Homo sapiens: one gene and its partner. Each later gene encodes a partner of the first gene's protein in a complex. Each region holds a gene or a part of one and is shown on either strand. Other genes may lie near its edges. The genes, in order: INHBA and FST. A codon is read from its position in the direction of its gene.

Evidence for each region.
Region 2: the proteins of INHBA (region 1) and FST are in contact, whole or in part, in a crystal structure (PDB 2P6A), measured with the Homo sapiens proteins. Residues at the interface, in NP_002183.1 of Homo sapiens: Asp315, Phe327, Asp337, Trp338, Ile340, Ala341, Gly344, Tyr345, His346, Gly360, Thr361, Gly363, Phe368, Thr371, Arg397, Ser400, Leu402, Tyr404, Asp405, Asp406, Gly407, Gln408, Asn409, Ile410, Ile411, Lys412; in NP_037541.1 of Homo sapiens: Trp33 (codon at 738), Arg35 (codon at 732), Val44 (codon at 705), Leu45 (codon at 702), Arg60 (codon at 657), Phe76 (codon at 609), Met79 (codon at 600), Asp135, Glu152, Pro154, Glu155, Val180, Val181, Asp182, Gln183, Tyr188, Val190, Arg221, Thr224, Cys225, Arg229, Ser230, Ile231, Gly232, Leu233, Glu328.

The regions. Positions count from the first base shown.
Region 1 is NC_000007.14:41,692,832-41,701,429, forward strand, and holds part of INHBA (inhibin beta A chain preproprotein), read right to left. Parts: intron 7,687-8,598; 5' UTR 7,544-7,686; coding exon 7,156-7,543; intron 1,258-7,155; exon of another isoform or gene 1,088-1,257; intron 1-1,087. UniProt on the Homo sapiens protein: Inhibins/activins are involved in regulating a number of diverse functions such as hypothalamic and pituitary hormone secretion, gonadal hormone secretion, germ cell development and maturation, erythroid differentiation, insulin secretion, nerve cell survival, embryonic axial development or bone growth, depending on their subunit composition.
Region 2 is NC_000005.10:53,471,676-53,483,628, reverse strand, and holds the start of FST (follistatin isoform FST344 precursor), read right to left. Parts: upstream 3,001-11,953; 5' UTR 2,838-3,000; coding exon 2,753-2,837; intron 1,298-2,752; exon of another isoform or gene 1,114-1,297; coding exon of another isoform or gene 1,044-1,113; intron 750-1,043; coding exon 558-749; intron 126-557; coding exon 1-125. UniProt on the Homo sapiens protein: Multifunctional regulatory protein whose primary function is to antagonize members of the transforming growth factor beta (TGF-beta) superfamily including activin, myostatin, GDF11 or bone morphogenetic proteins (BMPs).

The DNA of each region.
Region 1 (8,598 bases):
TGTTTCTTAACAAAATAAAAGAGAAGAAGATTCCCATAAGCAGAGCTTAATCATTTAAATCTAAAAAGGCAATCAGCAGTTGATTTTAGGGTGGCAGGGTCCTGCCAAGGCCTTAGGAGAAGGCCGAGGGAAACCTCCCAAGCCTTGGATAACTAGCCTGGAGGGTGTGCAGGTTTCCTCCAGCTTGGGCACATCTGCCTTGCCCCATAGAGAATGTTAACAAGATACCTGCTGTTTTCCCTTCTGCCTCTATGCAGGACAGCTTCTGAAATCCTAAACTGCACAGGGTGTCACTCCAAAAACAGACAGATAGTAGCTGCTAAATTAGAGAACCCAGAGGGCACAAGGTTGGGTTTTGTTTTTCTAGGAAAGAGTGTAAAACTGGAGTGTCTGACTAGTGCCCCGGATAGGGAGGCTTAATAGGTTTGGGGTAACTCATCCCCATGAGCTCTGCTCTACTCTCATCCACACCTGCCAGAAGGGGTCAGGGTGAAGCCGATGGACAGCAGTGCTGACCCGCATGCAGTGGACTTTCCATGAATAACACCCAAGGCTGACTACAGATGTTTAGGTGGGGGTGCCGAGGGAGGGTTACTTGGCTGACTAGAATTAGGGACAGCCGTGTGCAAATTGCTTTTTTAGGGCCAGAGAGGCTGAGGCTGCTGGCTTCCAGTCACACAGCCTACAGGACAGCCCCTGATTTCACAAGAGCAGGTTTCTGATGCATGATCTAGCCCCACCCCTTCTTCACAGGCAGCTGTACTTGGAAGCAAATGATTTAGTGTTCCTGAGAGAGGATTGTACAAAGAGAGTACTCATTAGAGGGGGCTCAATCTGTCAGGTGCTGTTATATTAGGATCAGAGAGTCATCATAAAATGACTTTCATGCTGGTCTTGGCTGATAATTAACTGCATGGCATCGCCTGCGTATTGTAGAGAGGCAAGGGTGCTGATTTATGCATCCGTTTAATTATCTGAATTGAAAGACTCTGTTCCCTGTATTTGCATCCACTGCCTGCGTGCTTTCTCTCTCCCCCATATTTCTGACATTTGGATTTTCCCCCTACTAATTGACATGCCTGTCGCCTCCTTCTCCTGGTGTCCATTTCTGGAACTGCTATTTGTATATTGCATGATATTTTATCAGGAAAAAATATAAAACAGATCTAATTTCATGAAAATGCTGTTGCCATAATGCTCAGGAGAACAGGGGGAAGAGAGAGATTCAAGTCTTCCTAATGTCTACCTTATATGCAGGTACATTTTACAAGTTCTATTGTATTCTGACTTATTAAGCAGTGCATATTTCTTTCTTTTACATTAGCTTTCATTGCAGAAGGGTGTGGGGAGATGAGACTGCTGGAAACTGACGTGGGATTGATGTTTATCAGGGCTGTAGGCTTCAGAAATATATTAAGCCTCGGAATGTCCTAGGTATGAAAAAGATAATAAATAACAGGTCAATTTATTATATTCCCTTTATCTCTATATTACCTGAGAGAGATTGCTATACTGCAGTGACACTTTCAAGATGCCCCAATCCTCCAATCTCCATGCATAACAATTTGAAAAAGGGAAGGTTGACTAAGGCTGGGATGTTCAGGATCAATTTCTAATCAGTTTCAGGTTTTACTCAAATATCTCATGCTGTAAACTCTTGAAATGAATGTCTTCCCATAGTGCGCCGTGAGCAGGTTCTGCATTAGTTTGTACAGGTGCGACCTAGGTTCCTGCACTATTACCTAGCTAACCAGATATAGCTGGTTGCTTTGCGAACCTTTCATTACCTGCTCTCTAATAATATTCTTTTCATCCTCTGTGCTATTTTTTCCCTCCCGAGGCTTGTGAGCAAGGCTGTATCACAGCCTGCTCTGCCTGAGTAATTCACTAAGAAAGTCCCACGCAAACCCATGTGGGTGATAATATTTCATCACTTAAACCTCTATGAGCTTGGTGGACACATACCAAAGAGAGAGAAAAAGAGGTGCAGAAAAATGGGCAAAGAGAAATTTTGTACCTCACAGGGAATACCTCTGAAATGCTGCTGGGTGGGAAGGATTGGACAGAGGAGAGACTGTGTAAGCTGGAAGGAAAGATAGCTGGAAGGGTGTTTGCAGCACATTTTCCTTTGCTTTCAGAATTTTAAAAATGTTTTGAATAAGTCAATCATGAAGGCATGGCAAGGGTTAAGCAACTAAGCCCCTTGTTGTTCCCTCCCCCTACACTAAGATGCAAAATGCTGGACTCATCCAAAAGTCCAGCATCTCAGATTTGTGGGTCTATGAACATTTTCAGTTAAATAAGCAACACACACATGCAGTGTTTCGATTTGGTTTTGTTTTCCTCACCAGGGTCCTGCTTAAAATATGTTGCTCTTTTACATATGGGCAATAGTTATGTCTCTAATGTGAATGTGGAAAGCCTCGTTGTTTATAGAACACATTTAAACTTACCATGGGATGGGGGCTGGGGGAAGCCTCCCTGTAAAAAGCGTCTGTTCCTTTAATTTTCCATTCTTCATCAAGATTTCACTGTGCCTAGATATGGTATAGTCAATGGTAAGGGTATACACAACTACCATTTACAGGGTGCATTCTCTGAAGCCCTAACTTTGCATTTGGACTGCTTCCAGGGGTTTCTGCAGAAAGCAGCAAGTGAGGTCTTAAGGTTATTCCTCCTTTGACCTACAGTAGAGGATCTTTCCTGCAGTAGAACTATAGGTTTGGCCATAAATTATCTTGATTAATTTTTTAGCTTTAATTTCCCTCCTTAGGGTCCATTATTGATTTATAAATGCCCTGGCACAAACGTCCATCATCCATGCCTCTTCCATTAAAGTGGTGATGAAAAAGGTTAAATATTTTGGGAGAAAGGGGTTTTAGGTTCCTACAAGTAGCAAAAATTCTTAAGGTTTAACCCACAAAATTTCAGAGACTTCTTCCAAAGTTCCTGAGAACTTTGGCACTTCTCATTTTGGACTTAGGAACCAGTCGAGTACGAAGAATTCAGAACTACAGCTAGGAGATCACGTGCAAGTATTTTTTAGCAGAAGAGGGGCCAAGACAAATATGTGTTTTCAAGAAAAGTGCCTGGGAAGGTATTACTGCAGTTCTTTAAATATTACAACGGACTTTCCACCCTGGCATCTCCACCACCCCCAGCCCAGTCCATCCACTGCACAGGCCGCAGACCACTATTAATCTCTTTTCCCATCTTTCCCACCATTTCTCTCCACACCCTCAGTTCGGAAACAAACGCATCCTCAGAAGCCGAACACCATGTTCCCACAAGGCATTACAGAAAGAACCTTTTTCCTCCCTGTTTGAAGTCACTTGTCATTTGTCGCTGGTGGAAACTGTTGATAAGGCAGGAAAACTAGGCAACAAAATCAGGGGAGATGGAAGATGTTTTTGTTACGACCCGGGAGACCGTATTAGGGAGAGACTTGTGAGCAAATCAGTATCGCTGATGATTCATAGTCACATTTCTCCCTGCTCCGCTTTGTTTGCTTTTGAAATTTATCACTCGTCTGCCTTCCATAGAGCTCCGGAATGTTCACATGTATCACTAGAATTTCCATTTCCTTTCCTTCTGTCTCATTTAATGTATTACAGGTAGTCATGCTTCTCCCATCTCATAAATTCCTAACTTTTTCTGCAGGATGAGAGGGAGCAGGCGGTAACTGATAATCACCAAGATTAGGGCGCTACAGACAGGGGCTTCCAGTACGCGCAACTGCCTTTCCCTGGATACACTGACAAGGAGCAAAAGTCTTTGGAACGCGCCCTCTTGTGGCCGCTCTTCCCCATTATTCACGGAAGAGAGCGTGTAACCCCTAAAGGCATCCCTAAAGGAGGGGTGATTCACAGAAAAGTTCGGAAGGTGGGATTGGAATGGTGGGAGTCAGCTTCATTTTGAGATGGCTTTCTTGGGGTGGGGAAAATGGTCATCCAAGCAAAGCTTCTTGGATCCCTGTCTGGGCAGTGCAAACTTCTAACTCAAATCTTCCATACATAGTATCCTCCAAGGGGTAGACTTATGTGTTGCGCTTAACAACACCTAGGCTACGTGAGCACATCCATTTCTTGGTGTGTCATTTGTCTTTCTTTCCCTATTCTTTCTACAACAAGTGCTATCAATTGCTAAGCTAATTACCAGAACCCACATCCAGGTTTGACAGCATATGGAGACTTAGAGGTACATTATTATTATGCATTGATTGACCACCTACTGTCATGAGTCAAAATAAAATAAAAATAAGCTGCATCAGCTGAAAAGGCCACTGAATTTAGCTTCATGACATTTATAGTGATAGCTTGGCTTTACCCATCCCTTCTATCTTTCCTTGTGAAGAACTCTGTAGGCCTTAAGGTAAAACATTGAGGGTTTTGTGCCAGCCATGCAAAGAACACACTAACCTTGGTGAGAAATCTTGGGTGATGTGACATATATAAAAATAAAATAATTTTTGTTTGTTGGGATACATTTCAGAGAGCCTTAGAGTGATTCCCTGCTGTTTAGTCAATAACAACTCGCATCAACTTTACAAAAATTGAGCACTTTCTACCTAAACAGGATGGGACAAACTCAGTTAAAAGAGTCCTCAGCACTTCAGCTTTTGGAGGCTCTCTACTTCTGTAGCCAGGCCTTGGCTTTATCCAACAATCAAGGAGAGAAAAGGCAAAAATTAAACGTAGCCTCAAATTGAAGAATCTTGAGGTTGAAAGGGGCTGCTATGGGTCTGCATCTGTGGCATGCTCATGGGTGACAATGTCTGGATTCTATGCTGCACAAAATGGTTATAAGGGAAAGAAAAATGCATTCCTTTTTCTATTCTCCAAAAACTCTTGACATTCCACATAGTTGGAATGTTATTAAAGTTGAATTATTCCAAAAGCAACAAGACATAGGTCTTTTCTATTCATGTTCATATATTTGCTACAATCATTTGGATGATAAATGTCTTTTCTGGACTAGCAAAATCAGCAGCAAAATGCTCACGTGGTTTTCTGCTTGAAGAGTAGACAGTCCATACAGCAATCATTAAATACATGAAATTACATTAAATCAACTTGAAGTTGATGTGTGAAATCCCTCAGAGAAAAATAAGCAATTGTAATAAGTGTTTTCTAAGAATCCAAAGTCAAGTTGTAAAGTCAACCAGGAGTTTCCCATTACAAATCTTAAACTTGACTCAATGTGAACGTCCAACGAATCGCTTTTTCAAAAGTCGCTCATTTTTTTTCAAACTAAACACCTAACTGAGAAGTAAAAAAATGACAAGATCTCATACAACTGAGAGAAGACTGTCACAGAAAGGAAGACCACACATAAGAAAGAATGTAAATGGTCAAATTTTTTCACTGCCAAATCTCTAAATGCTAAGAGAGTGATTTGCTATACAAGTCCAGTAAGTCAGAAAGAGGGGCATATTGCTAGTAACGGTAGTGCGGTTAAAAGTGGTCAAAGGCATAGGTATACTTAGTCATATGACATGGTTAAAGGCAACTGGATACGAGCTGTCATTGAATCCATCATGTGTGGAGGTTGGTATACAAAGACAGGAAGCAACCCTCTAGACCACTGAAATCTGTTTCACATGCACAGCCAAATATTGTAAATATTTTCTTTTTTACCTTTTCCCACCATGAAAAGTTGAGAAAAAAAAATGGGTGTCAACTTGAAAAGTTCCAACCTAGCTTTCTTCCTCAAAAAGCTCCAGAAGATAAAGTCCTAATGATCATGCCTTTTGGGGCTGGGTTAAGAAAGAGCTTTAGGGAAAGAAAGTAGGATCTTCCCTAAGTGAGAGAGGCTTCTGGTGAGAGAGCCAAACTGGGAAGCTTGTAGGACACCAGGGCTTCTCCTGCAAGGGGAAGCCACACAGCCAGCAGGCTATCTGCACCCCCGGAAAGATGCCCTGGTCTTTCATGGTTTTCTTGAAAACAGAACATCTGAGTCAACAGGTTTTCAGATTGGAAATTCTGAGTGTTGCCTTAATTGTTTATACTGCTGCGGCAAACTTTTAAACAAAAATGCTGGGAGTCCCTGCACATACTTTACTGGCCATATGCTCTACCAAACAAAACAATGGCATTCCTTTCAAATGGAGTTGGCAAAGGATGCAATTCTTTAGCCTGGCATTACCATGAAAGTAACACGGTATTAACACATCTGTGTGCCTGACGTGCATGGGCTTGCAGGCATGCAAAGGATCTGTGTCACTTAACTATAAAAATAGCCTGGCTCCAAGTCCATGGGCCCATACTTTTGACAGGTATTGCTATTCAGCAACAGGTTAGTGTGGTCCTGGGCCAACGATTAGAATCTATTTATTAAAGTTCTTCCTCTTAAGGATTGAGTGAGTTCAGCGTAGTATCTGAGAGTACTTTGTCAAGGTTGCGTTCCTTGGCAGAGAGCTCTTAGTAACTTTAGAAAGAACAAAACTGGTTGTTTTATTTATTTTTTTTTCTTTCAGAGAGCAAAAGTCAGTGTCCCAAAAGTAACTGCTGGTTCAATGACAACTGTCCCCCAAAGTAGCTCTTCCCTGTCTTGAATGTGGTGCCTGTGCACTTATAGACATTTTCTAAAGGTAAAAATGACTGTCACTCATAAATATGCCCTGCTTCTCCAATGTGGCCCCAGATTGGACTTTTAAAGGGGAAGGTTTGTTTTAAGAGAGTGACTTCATCTGTGCCATTCCACTCCAATCCTGGTACATTCACCCCTCTACCCTCAATAAAAACTTGGATGGGGTCCGGAAGCCTCCTCTGCTCCCCTAGCACCCGAAAATGCCGCGGCTTTCCTCCGGCTGCTCAGATCTGGTTTCACAGGCAGGGCAAGGCAGCCCCTCACAGTCTGCCTTCCAGCTCAACATTGGCCCCGAGCTTCCTCTCTGTGTGACCCGCTGGGTTTAGTAAGTGTAAGCCAGTCATCTCCAGGCAGAGCTCGACCGAGAATTCCTTTTCTGTAAAGTCCTCTCCCCCTCCCCTGCCTGCCCTCCGTCGGCTAGTCCGCTACCATCACCTAATAACTAATAACCTTCCCAGGCAGTTTCCAGCTGAAGGGAAAAGAAGTTCCTCCTGGGACTGTCAAAGAAATATATTTTACCCTCCCACCCCCCACCCCTCCCCACCCCCTGCCAATGCCAGCACCAACCTGACTCGGCAAACGTGATGATCTCCGAGGTCTGCTCCATAAGTTCATTCATTTCTGCCCTCCTTCCAATGTCATCCTCTATCTCCACATACCCGTTCTCCCCGACTTTGCCCACATGAAGCTTTCTGATCGCGTTCAGAAGCGCCGCCTTGGGTACCGGCTGGGTGACATCGGGTCTCTTCTTCAAGTGCAGCATGTTTAAAATGTGCTTCTTGACGGCCTCCACCATCTCTGGCTGAGAGTTGGGTACATCCTTTGGGAGGGCGGCCAGCGCACAGGACGGACAGTCGGGGGCCGCGCTGTGCCCCTCGGATCCTGGGGTGGGGGAACTCCTCACTATAATCCAGCAACTTGCCAACAGAAATCCTCTCAGCCAAAGCAAGGGCATCCTGGCAGCAAAAGTTGTTGTGATTGCCTTTTTAAAAGGCCCTGCTTTTCCTCCCCCCTCACGCGCAGGTTTTTTTGTGTGTGTGGATTTTTTTATTTTTTTTTTTGGTGTTTTTTTTTTCCTTCTCCTCTTCAGCAAATTCTCTGGAACAAGAACAAAAAGTTTTCTGTGAAGTTTTGTTTGCAGGTTCCTCTCTGAATGCAGTCAGTGCTGTAGGTTTGTGGCTGTCAGGGAGGAGAGTTCTGACTGTCTCCGAGTAAGAGAGAAGGAAGGAGGGAGGGAGGGAGGGAGACAGGGAGGGAGGGAGAGACAGGGTGGCGGGGAGACAGACAGAGACAGAGAGAGAGGATGGGAGGGAGACAGAGACAGAGAGAGAGGAGAGAGGGGGAGAGAAGAGAGAGGGAAAGAAGGGGGAGAGAGAGGGAGAGAGGGAGGGAAGGGAGGGGGAGAGGGAGAGAGGGAAAGGAAGAGAGAGAGAGAGAGAGAGAGAGAGAGAGAGAGAGAAAGGATTGGCCCTAAGTAAGTGAGTGAATGGAGAGGGAGGGAGTTTGCTGTGAGTAGGGCTGTGATTAGGGAGGGAGGGACAGCCCGTTTTCTGACAGGCTGCTCTCCTTCTGCTCTTAGCTTCCTCACAGACACCTCTCTTCAAATATCACCATTTTCGGGGGTTCTACTTTCTCTTCTAAAATAAATTATCCTAATTTTGTTCACTATTTTTTTTTCTTTCTCTGCCCAGTCTCCTGGTTTCACCTTCTTCCTTTTTTGGAGGGGAGAAAAGAAACCCCAAACAAACACAGTGTCTCAATCAATAGGGATGAATTGATTGAAAAAGTGTTCCCACCGCCCCTCCACCCAGCCAAGCCACAGCCCTAGGTGGTAGAACGCCCACCTGGCCACGTGGTGGGGCAGAGGGTGCAGGGAGGTCCAGTGGACAGGTAGTGGAGGTCAGGGAAGAGGGACTCAGGGGTAACAGAGGATTGTTCTGGCCTGATGGGATCCAGGGGAGATGGTCCTTTCCCCCAATTCATTCATATTTAAATGTTCAGGTCATCAAC
Region 2 (11,953 bases), on another chromosome or scaffold:
CAGCCCGCAGACTGGACCCTTCCAGGTGATGTTGGAACAATCCGGGGCGCAGACGCAGCGGGGTTTGTTCTTCTTGTTCATTCGGCATTTTTTCCCAGGTCCACAGTCCACGTTCTCACACGTTTCTGTGAGTTAGAAACAGGCATGGATTAAAACCAGAGCCAGGCAGTCTGCAGGTCAGCCAGGAGGGCTTCGGGTGCCTTGCGCAATCATGCAGCCCTGAGTTTGCGCTGGAGGGGCCCCAGGCTCTCTCCTGGAATATTGGGAGTTGGTGAAAGAGTGTGGACCTTGGGCTGTGCCCCACACCCAGATCTCTCTCATTAAGGAGCACAGGTTGGTGGGTTTCACCACCACACTTGGCTAAGAAGTCTGGCGTGTATTCCCTACAGCCTGTAACAGGCAGAATTAGAGTCTGCACGGCTTACCAGGGCAAGGGACAGGAAGGGGAAGCCCAGGAACAAAGCTCTCCTACTCCCAAACCCCAGTCAGGTAGTGGGGAAGCTAAGGGTAAGACGCCCTCTACTGAGGGCCTGCAAGTTGGGAAGAAGGAGTCCTACCTTTACAGGGGATGCAGTTGGGGGCGCCCCCGTTGAAAATCATCCACTTGAAGAGTGTGTTGTCATTCACGTCCTCCTCGGTCCACGAGGTGCTCAGCCGGCCGGTGCTGCAGCACTCCTCCTTGCTCAGTTCGGTCTTGTACAGGACCTGGCAGCGGCCGTTCTTCGCTTGACGGAGCCAGCAGTTCCCAGCTGTGAAGAGACAAGGGTGGGGAGGTGGGTGAGTGAGCAGTGAGCGGTGGCAGGGCAGGGAGAGCGAGGTGGCTAGCGAAGGAGACCCGGCGGGGATGGGGAGGGGGTGAGCGTGGAGGAGGGGAAGTGAGAGAGACGCGGGAGAAAAGTAGGAAATAAATCGAAAGGGGTGGAGGGGTGGAAAAAGAAGGCAGTGGAGGGGGAAGCCCTGATCACAGAGATGGGAGGTGGGCGAGAGGGAGGGAGGGAGAGAGGGAGAAGACAGGGCGCCCCAGCCATATCAATGTCAGTTACCAGTGACCCAGACACAACACGTGCAGCTTGCATTGACTTTTACTAGACTGTTTACTTTTATTCGTCCCATTTCATAACCTGCAGAGACTCGAAGAGCAGATTAAAGAACCTGACAAAAACAGGATGCGACGGATGTTTTTACATGCTGGTTTCATGTAGGCGGGTACAGGAATTATTTGTGACAGGGGTTAAGAAAGTAAGAGAACGAGAGAGAGGAGAGAGGAGAGATGGAGGGGAGAGAGAGGGAGAAGGAAAGAGAAAGAAAGAAAGAAAAGAAAGAAGAGAAAGAAAGAAAAGAAAGAGAAAGAAAGAAAAAAAGGAAGAAAGAAAGAGAGAGAGGAAGAAAGAAAAGAAAGAGAGAGAGAGAGAAACAGATCAAGCAAAAGGCACTTCTGAAAAATGAAAGCAAAAAAGCAACCCGGCCCAGCCCGGAGCTACCCCGCGCGGCCTCCAGGCGCAGCCAGCCCGACGGGCCCGTTTTGCAATCCGCCAGACCGGAGCACGCCCGCGGCCACCGCGATCTTTCGAAATCTCCGAGGGCTGCTTTCCTCCGCGCCCACGTCCGGGCACCAGGCAGAGCCTCTCCTCTAAAGGCGGGCAACCCAGCGCAGTGCCATGCAGACGGCGAGGGGCAGTGCCCAGGAGGGCAGTTTACAACATACTTAAAATGTTAACGCTGAAGCAGGGAAAGTAATGCCTTAAGGTGGGGGGAGGGGGGAGTCTTCCTACCATTTCACGGTTATAAGTACCTATCTCATACCTAGCAAGAAATATTTGCAAGTGATTTCTCCCTCTTCCCCCTTTTTAATGTTCGGATTTGGGTCGAGAAGACTTCTCATGAATCACCAATATGACTTTAACAATCATTGGATCGCAAGCTGCTATTATTATTTTAAACATTCTGCCCAAAGACTAATTGAAATAAACAAATCTATTTTTAAAAGGCAAGCTTCAGAAATTTGCTCTTAACCCATTTCAGAATTTAAGTCAGTTATGGGCTGCTCACTGTTTTACAGAAAGCTAAGGGTCAGAAAGAAGAATGAGGCAGAGGGGAAAAAAACTGTAAAGTGCTCAAAGCACTTTGGGGTAATAATTTGGCTTTTTTTTTTTTTTTTTTTTTTTTGCGAGAATGGGGGATGGGGTTGGAAGAAGCATCCACTAGGCAGAAAGCTACTTCCCTTGAAAATCTTCAGCACCCACATTTCCAAGTTTGGGCAAAGTTTCTGAAACCACGTCCCCCAGCCACCAAATAAAATTCAGTATCTCTCCCCCAAACCCCCAGGTTTTCTTTTCTTTCTTTCCTTTTTTTTTTTTAAGTATCCAAAAGATGTGGGAGGGAGAGAGATGAGACTGCAAATGGGTCGACTGAAATCTCCAGGCTACTACTGATACTTGTTCCCTTCTTCAGAGCCAAACAGAGGAGATCACATCTAAAGTTATCATGGCCAGAACTTGGAGCATTTAACCCTAACTACTAAGACCCCAGCTCGCTCCCTTTCCTTTTTCAAGATAACCGAGCTCCAAACTCAGTTCCCAGTCCTAAAGTGTCATTGCCTACAATTTTCCCACTCCTCTCCATCCCGGAGTCCCCAAGTTGGTTCAACATCTTCCGAGAGCAGCGTTGCTCAGAACAGACCAAGTGGAGACCACAGAAAAGTCGACCCCCCTGTCCTCAGCCAAGCCTCCCCAGCGCATCCCCACTCGCTTACCCTGGGCACTGCGGTCCTCCATGAACTGGCAGAGCAGCAGCAGCAGGAGGCAAAGCCCACCCGGCTGGTGCCTCGCGCGGACCATCCTGGGGGCAGGCGCGGGGCGAGGAGCGCAGCGGCGCGGGGAGCCGGCGCGGCGGCGGGTGGCTCGGGCGAGCGGCGCGCGTCGCAGAGGCCAGCGGCGGAGGGCGCAGCGATCCCGGCGCAGCCCCGCGCTCGCCGCCGGCCGCCCGCGCGATTCAATGGACGTCAGAAGCCGGGCGCAGCCGCGCTTTAAATCTAGACGGGGGTCTCCGCGGTTTGCGGTGGGCGGTCTCCCAGTGTGTGGGGCTGTGGGAGGGCGGCCGCGAGCGAGGGTGTGCGCGGCTCCTTGGGGGTGGGGAGCTTTCAAAAGTTCAGTGTGAATCAGGTGACATTTCCCACCTTCTGGAAACCCTTCCCAATTATCTTTCGGAGGTGCCCGAAATCAAAACGGCTGGAAGGGAATCGTCGAGTTCTTATTTGCGTAGGAGCGAGAGGGAGGGGGAAGGCGACCGGGGCGGGGGTTGGGGGCTACGCGTCGGGGGTGGGGAGTGGGGAAGAACACCCACTTCAAGTCCTGCTCGCCGCCGCTCGCCGGCAGCGCCGGCGCGCCCGGGGTGGCGGGTGTGTGTGTGAGTGTGTGTGTGAGTGTGTGTGCGCGCGCGCGCGAGTGTGAGAGGGAGGGCGCGGTGGGGGCGCTGGAGGCGGTGGCGGGGGGAACCCGGGAGTTTGTCTCCGTGCTGCCTCTCCTCCGCTCCAAAGAGACTTTTGCAAACGGCCGAAGAGCCCCGGGCTGCCCAAATATCCCGCCCCGGGTCGGGTCGGAGCGCGCCGGCCTCGCGGCGGTTCCGGGCACCCGCAGCCTGGGCGCGGGACCCGCGAGGTTTTGTGTCTGGGTCTGTGAGTGCCTGACTTTGCAGCCACCCCCAGCCCAGAGGTGTTGCTAGGAACCCCGGCCCCGGCACCTTCCACCCTGGCAGAGCGCTACCGAGACGCGGCCCTTCGTCTGGACTAGTCGGAAGCAAACAAAAATGTTTAACACCTCAGGCCCGGTCTCCCCGCGGCACAGCCTCGCCCTCTCCCTTTCTTTTCTCCCCTTTCACTTCGCGGCGTCTGGAGTCGGAGCCCGGAGCGGGGGCGCCGACGTAGGCGGTCTGGCCCCCCCTTCCTCTCCCGCCTGGAGACTCCCCAGTTTCTGTCCTGTGTGCCTCTGTCTGTCTCTCAGTCTCCTCGGCTCCAATCTCTCTCTCTTTCTGTCTCGTCTTCTCTCTTTTCGCGGAATAAAAAAGATTGCAACATCCATAATGAACTTCTGTAGCCTCAGTTTATTAAGTACAGTGCCTGGCATTCTTCGCTGAAAGTTGGCGGGTCTCTCATTTATAACATTTTTGGCACCGCTGAATGAAACTGAGGAGGCGATATTTCCTTTTATATAAAACGATTACTTCACGGAAAATGCTATATTGTTTATTCCAAAGCTGCCTTTTAAATTTGTTCTTTTCGCATCTGAAGCCCGAAGGACAACAGATAGCGAAGTATGCAGACAAAATTCTTGGACATTCGCAGGTCACTGGGATTTGTTCTACGAATTTCAAATCTGCCCTTCTTCCCCCCCTGCAACTGCCCTCCCCCCGCCAGACCCTCCCCCAGTCCTCCTCTAGCCCTCCCACCCCCCATCTTCCGTCAACCTTCCCCCCTCCACAACTGCAAATAACTCAGTGATAACAGATTTTTTTCCACCAACTGCAGGAGATAGTGCTAATCTTTTAATAAAAGATCCCATTACAATGGGATCTGTCTGGACAGACTATAATAGATCCCGAAATACAGCCGTGCTAATATTAGAAGACAGTTGTTTGGGTGCCTCTCAGACGGGCCCAAGCCCCCCTTTGAAAGTGGGCATGAATCACAAAGCCCCGCGGCCGCCGCACCTGCACCGCGCGCATTCGGTGCAGCAGGCTGGTAAAAGCGGGTGACCTCGCCGCCGCTTTTCGCTTTATAATTACCGTCATGAGGACGGGAGGGGAGGGGCTCGGGCGGCCCGGGGGAGACTGGATTTTGCTCACTTCAGACGGCTGTGGGGGCTCCACATCCTTCTTAATCTTTCCAGAATCATTCTGTCTGTTTCTGTCTCGCTGTCTCTCTCCCCTTCTCCCTTTCCCTCCAGTCCTCCAACTCATTCCCTCTGCTCTCTTTCCCCTACTCCTTCCCCTCTTCTCTCCTTCCCTCCCTCTACCCAGACTCTACCCGTACTCTCCCTCCCTTTTCTCCCTCTCTTTCTTTTCCAGTCTCCTTTTCTCTCTTCCCTCCAACTCATTAATGTAGAGTTGTTTAGTGCCCTCTAATGGCAGACGACATTAACAATTAATAGCAAACTGTCCCCTTTGCAGGAGCCGCCACTCAATGGCAGAGTTCCAAAGCTGAATTTATTTCTTCTTTATTCAGAGAAATGGTATAGTCCTTATACAATGATGTGCTGGAGGGAAAGTTTGTTTTCTCTGCTTAAAGGTTCCCCCACCCCTGCCCAGGGATAAGTTAAAGGAAAGAGAAGCTAACAAGTATTGTTACTTGACTTTTCCCCCTACCCTGTCTTTTAATGGCAGCAAGAGACACAGCTTCTTTTTAAGGTAGAGGTATCAAACCGTATATCCAAGGTTGAAAAATAAACATTCCAAATGCATAAAAGATCTCAGATGGTAAGTAACTGGATCTTACAGCAATGCTATCAATGATCATACATAATTACATGATTTTATATTTGTCTCCAGTTTAAATATATTTATTGGTCCTGAATTGGCCAGTAGCCTCTGGAAACTGGGGTCTTTTTCTTAGACTTTCCACCCTAGGACTATACAAAATATTTAAATTTTACTTATATGCCTAGTTGTATATGAAGTCATCTTGCCTGGAGAAATATAGAATCACGTTTTAATCCATATTTATTTTCTCAATATCTTTGGGAAGATTGTTTTAAAGTTCATAATCTCATCATATTTTATAACCGTATAGCAAGGAGAATAGTGATATAACTTGTATGTTCTTATTAGATTTTAATTTTGTTCATTCCTATATGTACATATAACATGTTGATGTAAAAGGGTCATACAAGTATACACAAAGATTACCTTTTTGGGGGAAGGTCTGTGTAGCTAAATGAAGATTAGAATAGAAGCAATTTGGAGGGGCTAGTCAAAAAATTTTCCATGTTTGAGCAAAACTATTTAGTTTGTCCAGATACTTATTTTAGTTTATGTATATAGAAACAACTGATGTCACAAAAACTTTCTAAATTAATTTAAGTTGTATCCTCACAATTCCAGTATGATTGGGTAAAAGTAAAAATTTCATTTCTATTTCATTTTTTGTCTATGTAATGCCAAATGCTCAGACCAGTCATTTGACTAAATTGACTGCCTTGACTAGTTGTTTTGGCATCATGTAATTGTCTTGGCTAAGCCAAAGCAGACACAGTAGCTCTCATTGTAAAAAATGGCACCACAAATAGGAGTCCCTCAGTACCAGAGGGTGACCCAACACAGGATTACTTCTCGTCCCAGAGAAGGTGACCCTGCAGGTCAGGGTTGAGGTCACTGGCAAACACACTGTGGAAAACATAAGTGCTGTGTTGCTTTTGCCCTTTTGAATAAGCAGCTTGGTGTTTGTTTAGTGATACAAGCTCATCCTGTTTTTCAGCTGCACCTTGGATAGTATTGATCTGTTTGGGAGAATGTCTGCTCCAAATCAGCACAGATCAGTCACCATGACTCTTGCCATCTAGGGTTATTTTCAGATCATAACTGAGGAAATGAGACACAGGTCAATACTGGTTCCTTATAGGCTTTCTGTGGGCATCAGCAAGAGATCCATCCCATTTCTGTGGTATGAAATGGTACCACACCTGTTCAGTGACATCACAGAAAAACAGCTGCTATTTCTTTTACTGTTATATCGCCTGTAAATGTTAAATATTGGGTTTGTAGATATCTAAATGTCAAGGGGACATTTTAAAATAAAAATGTCGCCTTTCATTTTTGTTGTATGCCTCCAAGTTTGACTTCTTATTTTTCCTTTCTGCTCTGCCAAATAAAAATGTAAATTATGAGAAACACAATAGGACCACTTTGTAGCTGAATTTCTGGGCAGCACACAAAAAGACTACTGTTTTCTGATTGGTCTTTTGTCAGCTTCAAAAGCTGTCTTCCTTCTGAAGTTTATAAATTTAAAATATTAGAGTTTAGCAAATGATTCAATCTAACTCCCTAGATAGCTATTTAAACTCATATGACATTGTTATTTGAGACCAGAACTGACCTGGTTAAATTTCAGTACCTAAAAAGAGAATATGGAGGGAGTGGGGTGAGGTTATGTAGAGACTATTTGAAAGTCATGAACTGAGTAGCTTTTTTTTTTTTTTTGCCTTAAGATTAAATGTCAAGCTTTTTTTGAAGTTAGGTGTTTTGCAAAATGAATACATTTTCAAGTGCAAATAATCAATCTTGATTAAACAACAAAAGTTAAGCATTTGAAAAATAGGCTAAAATGATTTTAAAATCAGATTTTATTCTAGGTACAAAACAGTTACTTAATGTGTCATAGTCTTTGGCATTATGCAACTTCATAGGCTAGCATAAGGATTTGAGTAGGGGGATGGGGGCAGTAGTTCTGTATTGGTTGAATCATTACAGAACTAAAAAGTTAAGAAATGTGAGTACGTAGAAGCAATGTTTACCCAAGATATCCAAACTACCGGTCAATTAAGGTTTTAAAAAATCATTAGAAAAATATGTTTTATGTAATATATATATATATATATATATATAACTGAGAAAACAACGGATTACTTGAACTTTTCTCTTTTCAGTGTTGCTTTGGTGTTATACAGAGCTGATCAATCATGGATAGCTCTTCCTTTTTGATACTACTTGTTTCTGTGTAACATTTTTATTGCCTTGCTTTCCCCTTTAATTTTAGAAATATTTTTGGGTTTCCAGAAGTCAGCTAAGCTAGTTGTCACATAGTCACTTAAACTAGCCATATTAATATATTCAAGTTCAACATAATTAAGTAGTTAAAATAAATCTTAGTAAATAATTCAAATTATGCCTTAGAATGGGGATGTTACATTGGATTAATAGAAAATTCTAAAGTATTTTAGGTCGCTTTGACAACATAAATGATTCATATATTTGGATATGACTGAAAATATCTGTGTGTGACCTTTAGCACTTTTAACCCTGATTCCATTTACACTTTCAACTGCATAGAAGGTGTGAGGAGGGCAAACTAGGATTTGCTGTTCAGTTTCCCCTACTTTATGTTGGAAACAACGTGTCAATCAAAGTAAGAGCCACCTTCCTGGATTATTCATTGGCTGAAGGTGAGTAGCATGCTGTAGTTACTTTGGTATGTTTTATTTTCTGGTCCCTTATTTTAGCTTTCCATAGAGTAGCAGTGGTTTGCACACTTAATAACTAGTTCTTCTCTAGGTATTTGCCTATTTAATATTACCATCAGTAGTTGATACAATTGCTGTTTGATCATCCATCATATTGTCACCCCACTTTTTAATTTGACATGAATCCTGTCTCATTTCTGATGCTGAATGGTAAATTAAGAAGTGAGATACTGTTGCCAGGCGAGATGTCAGAGGCCTGGCATTGAAAAGTGGTCAACCTGTGGGTTGGTAAGAAGAATTTACTGATGACAGTGTAGGTTTGAAAAAGGATAGTTTTATTAGAAAGAAAGAATGCTGCAGAAGAAGTGCAGCAGAGCCTCTCAGCAAGAGAGGACCCAGAGTGTTTTGGTAGATTTTTCCTTAGGGGTATTTATGGACCTTAAAGCAGGAGCTTAAGAGTAATTTGGACCACATTAGCCATGTAGGTCATGTTAAACAATAACGTTTGTAGATACCTTGGTGCCTTAATGTCAGCAAGGGTTGCACAATGAGTTTCAATATGCATACAAGTTACTTAACAAATTTTTGGGAGGGAAACCTGGAACCATATGCCTGGTTTAGATAATGGGAAAGTCGAATTACTTCTGAATCCCTCAGATAAGGAATTTTGTCTCTGGATGGCCTGCTTGATAGTCACCAGGTGATCTTTGCTATCCTCAATTATGTTTACAGTAAATTCAAATTTTACAAGTTAGTAGAACATGATTTTGAATATCCTATTTCATCATCTTGTAGAATTTTCAGTTAGTCTTGGAAGCAGAGAGTGAGTCTTACCATACACTGAATCTGCTGGCACCTTGATCTTGGACTTCCTAGCCTCCAGAATCATGAGCAATATATTTCTGTTGTTTATAAAATTATCAAATCTAAGATATTTTGTTATAGCAGCAGCATGAGCTAAGACAGTCATTGTTCCTCAACGGGGAATTCATTCCAAATCAATTTTGCACTTTTCCTTTGCACCTTTGTAAAAAATCAAAGAGCTTCGTAAGTGTGTATCTATTTCTGGGCTCTCTCTTATGTTCCGTTGATCTATTTGTTGATTCTATGCTGGTACCACACTATCATGATTAATGTGACTTTATAGTAAGTCATGAAGACAGGTAGTGTAATTCCTACAACTTTTTCTTTTTTTTCAAGATCACTTTGAATATCCTACTTGTATTTTTATATAACTTTTAGAATCTGTTTGTTGATTTTGCAAAAAAAGCTCGATGGGATTATGATTAGGGTAGATCAATTTGGTGAGAATGACATTTTAACAATATTGAGTCTTCAAAACCAATAACATGGTATGTCTTTGTATTTACATAACTCTTCTTTAGCTTCTCTCAACTGTAGTGTGTGTGTGTGTTTTTTTATTTTGGCTGTCATTGAAAAACATGCTGAAGTAGGATATTATATGTCATTTTAAGCTCTGTGTCTCAAAGGACCTCAATAGGTTATAAAGATTTCCTGGTGTAGGCTGATACTTGTTTTCAGACTTCCCCAAGCTGATTGTCTATGGTCAGTCAAAAAGAGTGTATTGAGCACACTTACCAGGAGTGGTGTGCTGACTCATCAAAATCTCTGGCATGCACTCTTTTGGTGTTTCTTTTAGACCATAGTCACTCCTTTAAATGAATAATCTTCATCACCATGAGATTTACACTCAGTGAGTGTTAAGAATAATTCTCTATTAGTTAGTGTTTTGTTGAGTATTATTTCATCATGTTCATGCAAATAGACTCCTCCTCAAAACTATCCATTATTGTGTTTAAGTTCTGAGAGATGGAAACATGCAGTTTCCATTATGCCAACATTTGGGTGGCAGTTACTTTCTGCCTTTATTCTTTATTGGAGAGTTATGGCATCTTTTCTGTTGTTATTGCTCTCCCTGACCCATTCATCCTCTCTGTAGTTTACTTTCCCCTTATATCTCGTTTTGCATCCACCAGAAGGGCTAGTGCTATACCCTAAACTTGTACCTTTTGTAGCATGTATTGGCTTATTTGGTTTTTCATGTAAATGCCACATTCAAAAGTAAACAATACTTTGTATCGTTTATCCAACAGTACTATTAAATATTTAACAATGGGTTGAGGTCAAATGGTGATGACACAACATGTGGAAATACGGGACAGGTGATGCATTAAGTGTTGAAATAAATTATTTCAACACATGGTGAGACTTGCTATTTTTTGGACTAAACATATATATACACACACATGTATAATGAGAACTACTAGATGAATTACTTAAAGGCAGTCTTGGTCAATGTGTGCTTAATGTCCCATAAATAGTCACTTTTTAGCAATATAAAATCATGAGTATATATACAGGAAGTTCATTTATTTGGTTTTTCAATACATTAAATAAATGATTCTCTTGAACTGGTCTCAGTGCAGTTTCCTTGCAAATAAAGATATGAAAATCGTCAACAGGAAACATGTGTTAATGGCTCACATGCTGGGCAGATGGAAACATAGTGTAGAAGAACCATTTAGTTGAGATCATTTTGGCCCCAATACTTCTAATTTTTGCTTTAGCAGAAAACATTGCTTTGGCCAGCCAGATGACACAACAATCACACTGTCAACATTTTCATTTTTGCCAGAGCACCAGATTTCCTGAATAAAACCATTAGGCAGTATTCTTAACTTTTTCTTGTTCCCAGTCCCCTTGAGAAGCTATTGAAAGATATGGACCATCTCCCCAGAATAGCAGACAGACACAAACACATACACAGCCACACAAAATGTTGCATTCATTTTAAGGAGGTCACAGGCACTCTGAAATCCATGCATATATCTATTATTTTATTCTTTAATAATAGCTACCATGTTTTAGTGCCCATTCCATGCTAGACATATGAAATACGTCATCTCTATTTTTTTTAACTGCTCTGCCAGGTAAGTGTTATTATCACCACTTCCTAGATCCCTCCAAAAAACAATAGGGCAAGGCTGAGTCAGAAGTACTTTACTGCCTAGCTTCTAGGAAGTGATTGTAATTTAGGCTTCCCAAGGATTAATGAGAAAAAGAAACAGATCTGTAATTACTCCCATATTCTAAGCAACCTAAGATACTTTTAAAGATAATGTTTTTTCTACTGTTATTCATAAAAACTAAAGCTGAAGAACATAAAACATGCAAGCATAAAAAATCAATTACATTTTCTAAATTCTCTGATGAAGATAGAGAAGCAAACAAGACTAATCTAGTTGTGGCTTTCTTGGAGATTTTAGGATGAAAGAGAAGGCAGATATTAAATAAGTAAGTACTATTCAATACATTATGAGGAAGAGGGTCAAGGAAAGCCTTCTTGATGAAGTGACCTTTAGCTGTAATTTTTGGTTGAGGAGGGGTTAGCCAGGAGAAGGCAGTGCTTGTGGAGAGATGGAAGAGTATTTGCAAAGCCCAGGAGGCAAGAAAGGAATCATATGAGGAACCAAAAGTAGTTTAGTAATGACCAAAGCACAGAGTTTGAGAAGGAGAGTGGAAATTGAGGAAAATGAATAAGTGGATGGTCTAGATTATATAAGCTCTTGTAAAATCTTGGGCTTACTGGTATTCCAGAGGAAATCCATGGGAATATTGTAAGTAGAAGGTGGCATAGGTCCCTTTTCACTTAGAAACTCTCTCCCCACTTGAACTGTGGAAATAAATGGGAAGGCATTAAAGGTGGTAAAAGGGTTACCTTCAAGATATAATTATCAGGTAGAATTGATAGATTCTGTTGATTG